Linked DNA regions of Homo sapiens. The protein of the gene in region 1 interacts with the protein of each later gene in a biochemical or structural test. Each region holds a gene or a part of one and is shown on either strand. Other genes may lie near its edges.

Evidence for each region.
Region 2: the proteins of RAB3A (region 1) and CHM form a complex in vitro, tested with the Homo sapiens proteins (one study listed by BioGRID).
Region 3: the proteins of RAB3A (region 1) and CHML form a complex in vitro, tested with the Homo sapiens proteins (one study listed by BioGRID).
Region 4: the proteins of RAB3A (region 1) and RIMS1 form a complex in vitro, tested with the Homo sapiens proteins (one study listed by BioGRID).

What each region holds. Positions count from the first base shown.
Region 1 is NC_000019.10:18,197,830-18,201,945, reverse strand, and holds part of RAB3A (ras-related protein Rab-3A), read left to right. Parts: intron 1-1,500; coding exon 1,501-1,619; intron 1,620-3,096; coding exon 3,097-3,221; intron 3,222-4,116. UniProt on the Homo sapiens protein: The small GTPases Rab are key regulators of intracellular membrane trafficking, from the formation of transport vesicles to their fusion with membranes.
Region 2 is NC_000023.11:85,862,559-85,866,058, reverse strand, and holds part of CHM (rab proteins geranylgeranyltransferase component A 1), read left to right. Parts: intron 1-1,237; coding exon 1,238-1,429; 3' UTR 1,430-3,500. UniProt on the Homo sapiens protein: Substrate-binding subunit of the Rab geranylgeranyltransferase (GGTase) complex.
Region 3 is NC_000001.11:241,633,870-241,637,369, reverse strand, and holds part of CHML (rab proteins geranylgeranyltransferase component A 2), read left to right. Parts: intron 1-1,175; exon of another isoform or gene 1,176-1,296; coding exon of another isoform or gene 1,297-1,337; 5' UTR 1,338-1,572; coding exon of another isoform or gene 1,573-1,603; coding exon 1,604-3,500. UniProt on the Homo sapiens protein: Substrate-binding subunit (component A) of the Rab geranylgeranyltransferase (GGTase) complex. Binds unprenylated Rab proteins and presents the substrate peptide to the catalytic component B.
Region 4 is NC_000006.12:71,885,398-71,889,349, forward strand, and holds the start of RIMS1 (regulating synaptic membrane exocytosis protein 1), read left to right. Parts: upstream 1-1,152; 5' UTR 1,153-1,626; coding exon 1,627-1,790; intron 1,791-3,952. UniProt on the Homo sapiens protein: Rab effector involved in exocytosis. May act as scaffold protein that regulates neurotransmitter release at the active zone.

The DNA of each region.
Region 1 (4,116 bases):
AGTTTTAAGAGACAGAGTCTCACTCTGTTGCCCAGGCTGGATTTGAACTCGTGGGCTCAAGCAATCCTCCCGCCTCAGCTTCCCAAGTAGCTGGGAGTACAGGCAAGTGTCAGCTTCCTTTAATTTTTAAACCTACAGTTAAATTCTCTCCATCTTCATCTGGCTTGATTTTTCTCCTTGGTCCTTGTCACTCTCCAATATAGGATACATTTATACCGTTATTTTCTATTTCCCACACTGAGTGTCACTTAGCAAGGGAAGTGCCCATCTTGTTAACAACTGTGTCCCCAGTGTCCAGTTCAGGGTGTGGAAAAGATCAGTGCCCAGTCCATGTTTGTTTATTTGTTTGTTTGTTTTTTGAGACAGAGTTTTTGCTCTGTCACCCAGGCTGGAGTGCAGTAGTGCAATCTTGGCTCACTGAAACCTCTGCCTCCCGGGTTCAAGCGATTCTCCTGCCTCAGCCTCCTGAGTAGCTGGGATTACAGGGGCTCACCACCAAGCCCAGCTAATTTTTTTTTGTATTTTTAGTAGAGATAGGGTTTCGCCATGTTGGCCAGGCTAGTCTTGAACTCCTGACCACAAGTGATCCACCTGTCTTGGCCTCCCAAGGTGCTGGGATTACAAGCATGAGCCACCACGCCTGGCCTCTGTTTTCTTTCTTTCTTTCTTTCTTTCTTTCTTTTTTTTTTTTTTTTTGTTGTTATTGTTTTGAGACGGAGTCTCGCTCTTGTCACCCAGGGTGGAGTGCAATGGCGCGATCTCGGCTCACTGCAACCTCTGTCTCCTGAGTTCAAGCGATTCTCCTGCCTCAGCCTCCTGAGTAGCTGGGATTACAGGTGCATGCCACCACGCCGAGCTAATTTTTGTATTTTTAGTAGAGACAGAGTTTCACCATGTTGGCCAGGCTGGTCTCGAACTCCTGACCTCAGGTGATCCACCTGCCTTGGCCTCCCAAAGTGCTGGGATTACAGGCGTGAGCCACCACCACACCCGACCCCCTGTTTGTTTTTTGAGACAGGGTTTCACTCTGTCACCCAGGCTGAACTGCAGTGGCGCGATCTCACCTCACTGCAACCTCTGCCTCCTGGGCTCAAGCAACCCTCTCACCTGAGCCTCCTGAGTAGTTGGGACTACAGGTGTGAGCCACCACACCCTGTTAATTTTTGTACTTTTTGTAGAGATGGGGTCTTGCTATGTTGCTCAGGCTGGTCTGGAACTCCTGGGTTCAAGCCACCTGCCCACCTCAGCCTCCCATAGTGCTGGGATTACAGGTGTGAGCCACAGCACCTGGCACAGTACGTTTGGTGAATGACTCTGTGGAATAATGGAGCACTCATATATTCTGAGCACTGGTGACCCAACCTGCTCTTCCTGACACTTTGTGCCCCTGGGCAAGCTCCTGCTTCTCCCAGGGGGCTGAACTGGATGATATCAGAGCTCATTTCCTCTTCGAGGGCCTTATGTGCAGGTCCTCTCTGACCTTCATCTCTTCCTCCCTAGGACACAGCAGGGCAAGAGCGGTACCGGACCATCACCACCGCATACTACCGGGGCGCTATGGGCTTCATCCTCATGTATGACATCACCAACGAGGAATCCTTCAATGCAGTGCAGGACTGGTGAGTGTACCCCACTTGCTCTTTTTTTTTCTTTTCTTTTCTTTGAGAGAGGGTTTTATTCTGTCACCCAGGCTGGAGTGCAGTGGCACGATCAGGGCTCACTGCAGCCTCGACCTCCTGGGCTCAAGTGATCCTCCTGCCTCAGCCTCCCAAGTAGCTGGGACTACAGGCATATACCACCACACCTGGCTAATTTTTTTGTATTTTTAGTTGAGATGGGGTTTCCTCATGTTGCCCAGGCTGGTCTTGAACTCCTTGGCTCAAGTGATCTGCCCACCTTGGCCTCCCAAAGTGCTGGGATTACAGGCGTGAGCCATCGCTTCTGGCCTTCCACACTCATTCTGGGGCCATTGTCTCTGAGCCAAACTTTCTTCAAAAAATAATAAATAAAACGTAGGGGTCAGAGAAGGATTTCAGATGGAAAAGTAAAACTATAACCATATAGAAACAAATATCTGCAAGTGTAGGGTGGAGAATATAGAGACTATAAGGAGAGTTGGCATGGCCGGGCACGGTGGCTCACACCTATAATCCCAGCACTTTGGGAGGCTGAGGCAGGTGGATCACCTGAGGTCGGGAGTTCGAGACCAGCCTGACCAAGATGGAGAAACCCCATCTCTACTAAGAATGCAAAAATTAGCCAGACGTGGTGGCGCACACCTGTAATCCCAGCTACTTGGGAGCCTGAGGCAGGAGAATCGCTCGAACCCGGGAGGTGGAGGTTGCAGTGAGCCAAGATTGCCATTGCACTCCAGCCTGGGCAACAAGAGCAAAACTCTGTCTCAAAAAAAAAAGGAGAGTTGGCATAGGTTAGAGATTGTAAACATTTCAATTTTCTGCTCAGAAGTAATAACTTTAAAAAAAAATTTCTGGGTTGGGCACAGTGGCTCATGCCTATAATCCCAGCACCTTGGGAGGCCGAGGTGGGTAGATCTTGAGCTCAGGAGTTCGAGTCCATCGTGGCCAACATAGTGAAACCCTGTCTCTACTAAAAGCACAAAAAATTACCAGGCATGGTGGCTCATGCCTATAGTCCCAGCTACTTAGGAGGCTGAGGCAGGAGAATCACTTCAACCTGGGAGGCGGAGATTGCAGTGAGCCTAGATCGCGCCACTGCACTCCAGCCTGGGCGACAGAGCAAGACTCTATCTCAAAAAAAGAAAATTTCTGGGCTGGGTGGCTCATGCCTGTAATTCCAGTACTTTGAGAAGCGAAGGCAGGCAGATACTCCAGCCTGGGCAACAGACCCAGACTCTATCTCAAAAAAAACCCCAAAACACAGAAACAATAATGGGTCAGTCGGGGGCTGGAGTGGGGTGAAAGCGGGGCACATTGGGGGAAAGGATGGTGGGGAGGATGGAGGGGCAAGCTTCTGGGTCTTTCTTCCTCGGACAAGGACACAGGCTCCACATCAGCCCGTCAGGGTGGAGCTGGGATCCTCCAAGCCCTGACCTGCCCCCATTGGTGCCTCCTATAGGTCCACCCAGATCAAGACCTACTCATGGGACAATGCCCAGGTGCTGCTGGTAGGAAACAAGTGTGACATGGAGGATGAGCGGGTGGTGTCATCAGAACGTGGCCGGCAGCTAGCTGACCACCTTGGTGAGTGCCCAGCTGGGCTGGAGACCCACAAGTCTAGAAAAAGGACACTAAGAGAGGGGAGGGCACACACCCAAGGTCTTACAGCTAAAGCCAGGTAATTCACACTTTCTGCAAACTAGCCTTCATCCAGGAGCCATTTGAGTTGGATCCTGAGGGATGTGTAGGAGTTTGCCATGCAGAAAGTTTAAGGATTTATTCTGACACTCACCGTCCAACGCTTTGTTGGGTGTTGCTGGGCTCAAGAGGCATCTAGGGGTGCCTCGAGGGACCCCTGAGGTAGAGGGAGGGACCTGGATGGGAGGAGCACATGAGAGGAGCCAGGCTTCCTGGAGTGGTGGGTAGTGAAGAAGGGTCTTTCAGGCAGAGGAAATAGCTTGGGCAAAGGCTTGCAGTGAGAAAGGTCCTGTGTGTTTTGGTAATAATTTCACAAGACTGGAACATGAGGGTCAGCTGGAGGAAATGTGGCCGATCACAGAGGGCCTCAACCATGTGCTGAGAGGCTGGGACTCTTTGGAGGGCAATAGGGAGTCACAGAGGGTGTGTGAGCAGGGGGAGGTCACAGCTGGATTTGAGTGTCAGAGCCTTCCAGGGCCAGTGCACGGGGCTGGGCTGGACGCTGCAGGGCATGTCTTGCCAGGTCCCTAAGGACAACGAGACACAATTTTAGGAAGGAAGGGCAGGAGGCCAGGTGCGCTGGCTCACACCTATAATCCCAGCAATTTGAGAGGTGGGGGTGGAGGATCACTTGAGCCCAGGAGGTCGAGACTGCAGTGAGCTATGATCACGCCACCATACTCCATCCTGGGCAGCAGAGCAAGGCCCTGTCTCAAAAAAAAAAAAAAAAAAAAAAAGCAGGAAATGCAAAGCTGACCCAGTTCCATGTTGCTTCTCTGTG
Region 2 (3,500 bases), on another chromosome or scaffold:
CCTCCCCAGAAAATGGTTTTTTCTTTTCTCCCACATGGTCAGACTGCAAATTTTCCAAACCTTTATGCTCTGCTTCCCTTTTAAACATAAGTTCCAATGTGAAGGCATCTCTTTGTGAACACACATGACTGAGTGCTTTCAGAATCAGCTGGGTCACCTCTTGAATGCTTTGCTGCTTAGAAATTTTTTCTGCCACATACCCTAAATCATCTTTCTCAAGTTCAAAGTTTCACAGATCTCTAGGGCAGGGAGAAAATGCTACTAGTCTCTTTGCTAAAGCATAGCAAGAGTCACCTTTGCTCCAGTTCCCAATAAGTTCCTCATCTCCATCTGAGGCCACCTCAGCCTGGACATCATTGTTCATATCACTATCAGCATTTTGGCCAAAACCATTCAACAAGTCTCTAGAAAGTTCCAAATTTTCCCACATTTACCTCTCTTCTTCTGAGCCCTCCAAACTGTTCTAACCTCTGCCTGTTACCCAATTCCATAGTCACTTCCACATTTTCAGGTTATCTTTTAGCAGTACCCCACTCCTGGTACCAATTCTCAATGCTAGTGCCTCTTACACTGCCATAAAGATACTACCTGAGACTAGGTAATTTGTAAACAAAAAAGGTTTAACTCACAAGGCCACATGGCTGGGGAGGCCTCAGGAAAGTTACAATCATAGCAGAGGGTGAAGGGGAAGCAAGGCACATCTCACATGGTGGCAGGAGAAAGAGAAAAGGGGGAACTGCTAAATACTTTTAAACCATCAGATATTCTGAGAACTCACTATCACAAGAACAACATGGGAACAGCCGCCCCCATAATCTAGTCACCCCCTAACACGTGGGGATAACAATTTGAGATGAGATTTGGGTGAGGACTCAGAACCAAACCATATCAAGGCTCTATAAGAAATCATATAAACAATATTAAGGAAATTGTATTTCTATTGATATATAGAATGAATGTATTTCAGTTCTCAACAATCTGAACACTTGATAATGAACCTGATGAGGTACTGCCATCCTTGAAGAGTGGACCTCAATACATGTATAGAATTAAAGGGAGAAGTCATAGAATTCTGAAAACAGACTTACGGAAGTTCATGTATTCTGATTAAGTACTGTAGCCTGTTTAAGCAAATTTTTAAGGATAAAACACTTATTTTTTTTTAGTTAATGCCAGAAATGCACACACATTTTAAACCGATTTCCAAAAACGATTTTATCTTTTCTTCCTTGGCCAGGCTGAAACACTTTTCCAGGAAATCTGCCCCAATGAAGATTTCTGTCCCCCTCCACCAAATCCTGAAGACATTATCCTTGATGGAGACAGTTTACAGCCAGAGGCTTCAGAATCCAGTGCCATACCAGAGGCTAACTCGGAGACTTTCAAGGAAAGCACAAACCTTGGAAACCTAGAGGAGTCCTCTGAATAATGGATATACACCAAACTGGATACCCAACTTTGGAAATTCTGACTGGTCTCAGAGTCTACTTGATAGAAGGACTGTTTGAGAAATGTTAGAAAGCAGCAGCAATTATAAGGCAAAATAGGTAATAGAAATCCAAAAGGGGATTTTCCTTATAGAGGACATTCCAAGAACACACAACACTTATAAAGCACATTGACTTGCTCATTTTAAATACCAAACTTGTGTGACTAGCAGATGAAAATTATAAATCAATTGATTCTCAGGAATGTAACTGTGGATATGAAAGTGATCCTATGCATTGTTAATAATTCCATGGTCTTAGGACAATTTTGCTTACCACTTTGGATCTTTGTTTGAAAGCCACATTTTCAGAACCAGCTCATGTATTTTCTTTGGTTATTTGAATTTTATTTTCTTTATGGACAAGAGCATCATAACATAATGATAAAAACATATAGAAAAACTAAAGTATCATGATCTAGATAGAAGCCTGTATTTGGAATACAGGTTTGTTTTGCTTTCTATGTTGAGAAGCATTGAAAATGCTAATATAAAGGTGTTTAGACATTTTTACGAATAAGTCAGTAGTGTTTTTTAGTATCAGTAGTGATATTTGTTTGTAAATTATTTACATATTGGGAAAGGTCAATAATGAAGAAATGAAAGAATGGAAGGAAAGGTGTGGATAGGCTCATTGGTATTTGAATATTCTGTCTGTCAAGTAACTAGAGTATTAGGCTAATTGTCTACAGACCTAATTTAATCCTGGCTGTCCTACTGATGATATTTGGTAAATTGTTTAACTTCTGAGCCTACGTTTCTCCATATATAAAGTGGAAATAGTATTACTATGCCTACTATATGAGAATGGTTATGAAGACAATGCAATGCCATGTTTAGAATCGGTTTGCCAGAAGAAAATTGTTTTAGAATTTTCCCATTGACTTGATGAATCTCAAAAGTCTCACGCAGGAAATAATTGCTTGCTGTCAGTCAACTTCCAAACAAAATAGATCACAGTGTTTTTATTGCATTAAGCTTTTTAAATGAAAATTTCTTTTTTAAAGTAGTATTTTATAGTCTTACAGACCAGTAAAAATAGTAACAAGTAGAATTGTGGTTTTGAAATATTACTAAGGAAAACACTCTATAAATTGTTTTATTCCTTTTCTGGTAGGTAAACCTGCAACCACCAAGGACTCCAAATTGTGTATGACAGTTGGTAAGCCCTAATATACACTACATAAAAACGTTAGGGCTGCCTGTAATCCCAGCACTTTGGGAAGCTGAGGTGGGTAGATCACTTGAGGTCAGGAGTTCGAGACCAGCCTGGCCAACATGGCGAAACCCTGTCTCTACTAAAAATACAAAATTTTAGCTGGGTGTTATGGTGGGCACCTGTAATCCCAGCTACTTTGAAGATGAGGTAGCAGACTCACTTGAACCAGGGAGGCGGAGGTTGCAGTGAGCCAAGATTTTGCCACTGCACTCCAGCCTGGGTGACAGAGCAAGACTCTGTCTCACAAAAAAAAAAAAAGGGGGCTGTACATAGGCAGCAAACTAAGCTGCAGTGATGTTGCCTATATTTAAATTTTCTCAAATGGCCAAGCTCTGATGGTCTACTTTATTTGAGCAATAGTTGAGACTTATAATTGCCTATAAATAAACAAACAAATGAACTATTTGTTTTTTTTTCTCACAACATCTGGCCTATATTGTCTGTCAGGAAGCCATGGCTCCAATGTAAAGTACATAGTTCTTACATACTTCAACTGCAGCTGGTCCCTGACCTCACCAGGTTTCAGAGATGTTCTTAAAGGAAGCCAGCTGTGGCAGGTCACAGATTCATGGGAAATGGAAAGAACCAAGGAATATAGCTCTTGCCTCACCTTTCTACCCACTGCAGATATAGTTCAAGCCAGAGTAATGGAAGAACTTAACTTACTAGCCTCTCAGGCTGCTCCTATCCCTACCTCCCAGTGTACAGCCCCTCCCCATCTCTTTAGTCCCCTTTCCCTCACTTCCCCTTTTATAATGTCACACAAATCAGGGACAGTAGGATCACATTATAACC
Region 3 (3,500 bases), on another chromosome or scaffold:
ATATTTTTGAGACAGAGGCTTTGACTAGACAGGACTGTTAGGATTGCCATTTTAGTTAAACTAAAGGTGTGTGCCCTATGCAATTTAATCTAAGTTCCAATTGAATGGCTTGTTTTTCCAGTATCCAGGATTATTAGTCATCTTGGGCTAGACAGGTACAGCTTGTACTGATTTATATTTCAGTAGGTTTAACAGTAGTGAAAACCAGAGCTCAAAACTGTGCAATGATGAATATTAGAAAGTTTAGCAGTATTGTTGCTTTAGCCTAAAGACTTTCAGGTGAGTATGCTCTTCAGCACCTTGGCCTTTCTACCTCTGGCCACACAGGGCATCACACAGATGTCTTCCGCACATGGAATGTAACCAGCATTATGCTCAAAGTTAACAGGAGAACCTTATTATTTTTTTTTTTTTAAACTTCCCCTTCAAAAATAAGAACAAACAGTGTTAGTCTTGGCAGAGGATGTTTAGATAGACCTTTTGCTTGGGATGCAGAGATTCAGGGTTGCAGAGACAGTGGCGAAATGCAAACATCACTGTATTCAAATGTTAGAAGTAGGTATTATTTATGTTAAGATATTTTAATATGAAATCAGAAGTTTTCCTTTTTTACTTACACTTACACACTTTTTTCCTTTATTACTTATATGCATGTGTACATTCATATAATATTTTTAATACATTTTCCTCCTCAGGGCTATTATGAGCCTAAATATTTTTAAATGGCCAGTTGTTTTACTGAATTAATCCTTTTGTAATAATCTGACTAGTAATTGAGTAGAAATAGTCTCATGTTGCTACCATGAGATCCTAAGGGTGGTTGTGGCATGGAAAGGTCTTATATTCAGCTGTTCTGGAATCACACATAGACTGTAATGGCCACAGAAATATTTTGAATCATGGCAGTATGCACATAGTTTATAATCTGTTTCTATAAACAGTGGAGCCATGCGTTCCTTTTAGTCTAAGCTCACAGCTGTGTATAGATTTATTCACATGATAGTTTTCTTAAAAGCTAAAGTTAGAGAATTGTATTATGTTATTTCTTCTTTATTTTTGTGGAACATTATGTTCATTCTCTATTACTATGTTGCCTGATTCTTGGGAGGGCTGTTATATCTCTATTGTCCATTCTCAAGAAATTAGAAAATATGTGAGAAAGCATTTAAGACATGCTTTAGTAGAGGTTTATGTCCAAATAAGATGTCACACTCCAATGGATTGTCATTGTTGCATGAAATTATTTTTCTCTTATATTGTTTACAATGTATTCTTTCTTGAATTTTCTTCTTTCAGAGAAGAGTTCCAGTCACAAATGCATATATGATGCATTTTGACATTTACTGCTAAGATGAAATGCAGAAATGAAACCACACATCCATTTTAGTATTCTCAGATGTGATTAGATGTACTTGCTCATGTTTTTATGCTACTGACTTATAAGAAAAAAAATATTTTAAAAGGGTAACCGTTAAACAGCTAGGACCTGCAACTTCAGTGCTTCTGGGATAACTGGAACATCAGAAGGACAGATTTTATTACAGCATAATCACACCTCATTTCTTTCATCAGCAGTTGTCACCAGACGCTGTTACTTCCTAAAATGGCGGACAATCTTCCCACAGAGTTTGATGTGGTTATAATAGGGACAGGTTTGCCCGAATCCATCCTTGCAGCTGCATGTTCAAGAAGTGGTCAGAGGGTTCTGCATATTGATTCAAGAAGCTACTATGGAGGAAACTGGGCTAGTTTCAGCTTTTCAGGATTGCTATCCTGGTTGAAGGAGTATCAGCAAAACAATGACATTGGGGAAGAAAGTACTGTTGTATGGCAGGACCTGATCCATGAAACAGAAGAAGCCATCACTCTTCGCAAGAAGGATGAAACTATTCAACACACAGAAGCTTTTTGCTACGCCAGTCAGGATATGGAGGACAACGTTGAAGAGATTGGTGCTCTGCAGAAAAATCCTTCTTTGGGGGTGTCTAATACCTTCACTGAAGTTCTGGATTCTGCATTACCTGAAGAAAGCCAGTTATCGTATTTTAATAGCGACGAAATGCCTGCAAAACACACTCAGAAAAGTGATACAGAGATTTCACTAGAAGTAACTGATGTAGAGGAATCAGTGGAGAAGGAAAAGTATTGTGGAGATAAAACTTGTATGCACACAGTTTCAGATAAAGATGGAGATAAAGATGAAAGCAAATCTACAGTAGAAGATAAGGCCGATGAACCAATTAGAAATAGGATTACTTACTCTCAAATAGTTAAAGAAGGCAGGAGGTTTAATATTGATTTGGTGTCAAAACTGCTGTATTCTCAAGGATTGCTAATTGATCTTTTAATCAAATCAGATGTTAGTCGTTATGTAGAATTTAAAAATGTCACTAGGATTCTTGCATTTCGGGAAGGAAAGGTAGAACAAGTTCCTTGTTCCAGAGCAGATGTCTTTAATAGCAAGGAACTCACCATGGTTGAAAAGAGGATGCTAATGAAATTTCTCACATTTTGTTTAGAGTATGAACAACATCCTGATGAATACCAAGCTTTCAGGCAGTGTTCATTTTCAGAATACTTAAAAACTAAAAAACTAACTCCCAACCTTCAACATTTTGTACTGCACTCAATTGCAATGACATCAGAATCATCTTGCACTACAATAGATGGTCTTAACGCAACTAAAAACTTCCTTCAGTGTCTCGGACGGTTTGGCAACACCCCCTTTTTATTTCCCTTGTATGGCCAAGGAGAAATTCCCCAGGGTTTCTGTAGGATGTGTGCAGTTTTTGGTGGAATCTATTGTCTTCGTCATAAAGTACAATGCTTTGTAGTCGACAAAGAATCTGGACGATGTAAAGCAATTATAGATCACTTTGGTCAAAGAATAAATGCTAAATATTTTATTGTGGAAGACAGTTACCTTTCTGAGGAAACATGCTCAAATGTGCAGTATAAGCAGATCTCTAGGGCAGTACTCATTACAGATCAGTCTATACTAAAGACAGATTTAGATCAGCAGACTTCCATTCTGATAGTTCCTCCAGCAGAGCCAGGAGCTTGTGCTGTACGGGTCACAGAATTATGTTCTTCAACCATGACATGCATGAAGGACACCTATCTGGTACATTTGACATGTTCATCTTCTAAAACAGCAAGAGAAGACTTAGAATCAGTGGTGAAGAAATTATTCACTCCGTATACTGAAACAGAAATAAACGAGGAAGAACTTACAAAGCCAAGACTCTTGTGGGCTCTTTATTTTAATATGAGAGATTCCTCGGGAATCAGCAGAAGCTCGTATAATGGCTTGCCTTCCAATGTTTATGTCTGCTCTGGGCCTGACTGTGGCCTGGGAAATGAGCATGCTGTCAAGCAAGCTGAAACACTTTTCCAGGAGATCTTTCCAACTGAAGAATTCTGCCCTCCACCTCCAAATCCAGAAGACATTATCTTTGATGGTGATGATAAGCAGCCAGAGGCTCCTGGAACCAATAATG
Region 4 (3,952 bases), on another chromosome or scaffold:
CTTTAAGTTAAATTAAGTTAAAAAAATAGCCTAGGAGAGAAACATATCAATTCTCTCATCATCATTGCTAAGGAGTCTTGACTAGGAAATTGTTGTTCAATTTAAACCCTTTTCTATATTGATTCTTTTATAATTATATCAAGAAAATTCAGTCTCCAGGTTTCAAAGCTGATAACATTACCTATTTTGAAAAGATTGCCTATTTATTTCTGCCTTTATCAGCAAGAGAAGCTCATCCTTAATGCCTATCATTGGGCTAGGCATTAGCAGAAGCTTCTTAAATACAATAGGATATGGTTGAGTGTTTTTCTTATCTGGGATCAGTGTTTCTTGGGAAGTACCTACAGAGATACTCTGAACTACATGTGAGTGAGTATGATGATAGCGAACATCATTAGAGGAATTAGAGTAGATAACTCATGTGTAAGCACCAGAGAGCAGTTATGTGATGTGATGGGGCTACCTAGAGCCAAAAAACACAAATTAAAGATTTACCGTGTTGTGGGGCATCTTGATACACTGCAGAACAGTCCTAGCGAGGACGGGTCAAGAAAGACACTGCATTGATGAGTACAATATACCCAGAAAATCCAGGCTGTTGGAGGATGTGTGTGTGTGTGTGTGTGTGTGTGTGTGTGTGTGTGTGTGTATCAAAAGCATCCAAAAAATCACATTGTTGTGGCTGTGAACACTTAACTAGTAAATAAGAAAGACACGGTGGCAGGGAGGAAAAAGAAAATGTATCCACAGGGTGTTCCATTCTGCTGTTCAGAACATTGTGGTTGCTCAAATAATATTAATGCTCTATGATGAAGATGGTAGCGAGGATGATGATGATTAATGCGACCCATGCAAAATAGGGCTGGGGAGGATGACATAGGCGAGGGACCAGAAGAGGGAGGATGACTCATGGGTGAGGGGTACCTGGGGATAGAGCGAGGTGCTGTGCACGTTGGCGACTGTAGGGGTAGCGGCCGGGGCACGCGTGGCTCGGACCCGGGGAGTGGGCGGGTGGGTGCCCGTGGGCGGAGCGGCGCCGGGACTGAGTGGCTGGCAGCTATGTCTGCGAGAGCAGCGGCATCACCCTGGATGGAAGCCTCTGAGACTCCGCCTAACTGACACCCAAACTCTCCCTCTCCCTCCCGCAGCCCCAAATTGGAGGCAGCAGAGCCTGGGAGCAGCCTCCACGGCGGCAGCGGCCGCCCCAGTCCCAGCCCCAGCCCCAGCCCCAGCCCCGCCCCCGCCCCGCGCCCCGCCGGAGACGCCCGGATCGGCGGAGCCTGGCGCGAGCCCTCGCCCCCTCGCCTCTCCCGCCGCGCCTCCGCCTGCCCGCCCCCGCCGGCCGAGGCTGGGCTGCGGGAGGCGGCCGGGCGGCCCCGAGCTTCGCTAGGGCGACCAAAACAAAGGCAGCATCCGGGGCTGGGTGGATGCAAACAACCATGAAAGACTGGGTTCTCGCTCTCCCCGGCTCTGCTGCTGCTGCTGCTGCCGCCGCCGCCGCTGCTCCTCCTCCTGCCGCCGCCGCTAGGGCTCCGCTGTGAGGGGGAAGCAGGGGCGCAGCTGCTGGGCGTGCATCCGAAAGGTGAGAGCCAGAGAGCGAGCAGAGGGGGCGGGCAGGCCACGAAAATGTCCTCGGCCGTGGGGCCCCGCGGTCCTCGCCCACCCACGGTGCCTCCCCCCATGCAAGAGCTGCCCGACCTGAGCCACCTGACCGAAGAGGAGAGGAACATTATCATGGCAGTGATGGACCGGCAGAAGGAAGAGGAGGAAAAAGAAGAAGCCATGCTCAAGTAAGCCAGCCCCAGCCGCGCCATCCATGCCTCCGTGCCTCCATCCGTCCATTCACCACTCACTCCCCTAGTCCTCGCGGCTGAGTGTGGGGAAGGGGCTGCCAGGGTGCTGGGTGCGGACGGAGGCGCCCGCCTTGGGCCAGGGGCGCGGGGCTTGAGCAGGGAAGAGGTCAGGGGACCGGAGGAGGGAGGGGATATGCCACAGATCCAGGAACCCAAAGGCCGGGGGAGGATGACTTGAGACTGGGGTGCAGAGGAGGGATGGGTGGACGGGGGCCACGCTCGTGGTGGGAAGTGCAGAAGCTGAGAGGTGCTGATCCCACCCAAGTGGAAGGTCCCTGGGCTGGGAGCAGGTTAGGGGGCAGGGGATGAGTAGAAACAAGGGGAGGCAGGATGAAGAGGTGCTGAGGACAGCTCCTCTTCTCTTCTTGGAGTTGTTTAGCTGGTCGGGGTTACCCCAGTGAAGGCTGCCTATATTTATATAATAAAAATGCTTATTTTTAGTGTTCATTTTAGTAATCATTCATCTCACAGATCAAGGTTGGGTCTTTTTTTGGGCAATTGCCATCTTTGGTAACCTGCCTCCCCAGCTTCTCTTTAACCTTTTATTCAGAGTCTTCTACACAGCATACCTGTGTGAAGACAGATTCTCTTCTCCATATGTAATGCCACTGGCAATACAAAGTTTTTAATCATGGGAGAAGCTGACAGGGACTCTGGCCTGAATAACATAGAGGTTCCTCTTTAGTGGTTTCCAAGAGACCTCTGGGGCCTGTTCAGTTCCTGGAGGAAACAGTCCAATAAGGGATTGGGAATTTGCACTCCTCCTCACTTCTTTAGAGCGCATCAACCCTTCAAGGGATTTCTGTCTGATGCCCCATTTTCCTGGTGATGGGGAGAAGATGGGACTACTTGCTGGTGGTGCAGGAGTGTGTGACACTGTGCTGCTGCTTGCCTCAGACAAAACTGCTTACAAGGGACTGGCAGAGAGACGGGGCTTTCCTTGCTTAGCATCACCCATAGAGTAGAGCTGAAGGAGGCTTCAACCCTGCCTTTTCTTGGGAAGTCTTCATGTATTCAGGAAAGTTTTCACTCTGAAGCAGGGGAATGTAGGGGCCCTGACTGTGACTGACTCCTTGGTGTCCCCTGCTTAGGCTGGAAGGTGTATCTGGGGCCAGGGGATTGGCATGAAGAGCCAAAAGGAACCTGTTGCATCTGGAGTTACCTGATAGCAAAAGAGGGGTGGGGAGGGAGCAGGGGTGAAACCCAGACACAGAGCACATTCTGCATGGCCTCTCCCCCACCCCCTAGAAGTGCCTCCTCGAGAGAAGATGCTGCCGAAGAAGATTTCTTCTGCTTCCCCTCAGTGCAGCAGTGCCTCATAGGAGAGGAATGGAGGGAGGCTGCATTCACAGACCGATGGTTCCCCAACCAGGGCAACTGACACTCAGATAGGGGAGGGGGATACTGAGGGAGAGATGTGGCTGTTAGGTCACAGCAAAATAGTAGAAATCCAGTCATTCCTGTTCTTTCATTGTAGATTCAGAAAAGGGCCATTAACTCCGAAGGCCAGAGCTGGCCTGGTTCTATAAAGAGCAGCAGGTTTCTGAATTCCCTGCTCCTTCTCATCCAAAAATCAAATACTTTAAGCCTGCCGGCTTGAGGGAGGCAGAACCCTCGTTAATCTGCTGCCTGTCCCTAGTGGAAGAATGACGTCCCTGGTGCTGCAGGCTTCCCCTCTTCTGAGACTGGAAGTAATGGATGGTGTCTGATAGTGCTGCTGTCTGTCTGTCTGGTTGTCAGTCCGTCTGTACTCACTGGTTACAGCCCCTGCCACCTGTCCTGAACACCTTTTCGGCTTGTCAGGATTTACAGGTTTGCTGCTGTTCCTTTTGCTGTTTGCTGCAGACAGCAGGTGGATGGAGGCCTCCAGTAGCTAGTGGAAAATATAGGCTGCTGCTTGCCAGAGTCCGGATAGGAAGGGGAAGGCACGGTGCAAGTAGTGGCCATCATGCCTCTTCATTGGCTGTCTCAAGCATGGTGGAGAGTGAGGGATTTTAAGTGGGAGTGGGTGAGTTTTAGGACAGAATTCCAAACCTGCTAACTGCCAAAGGACAGCAATTATAAGATTGTATGGGCTTATATGGGCAAATAAAAATTAG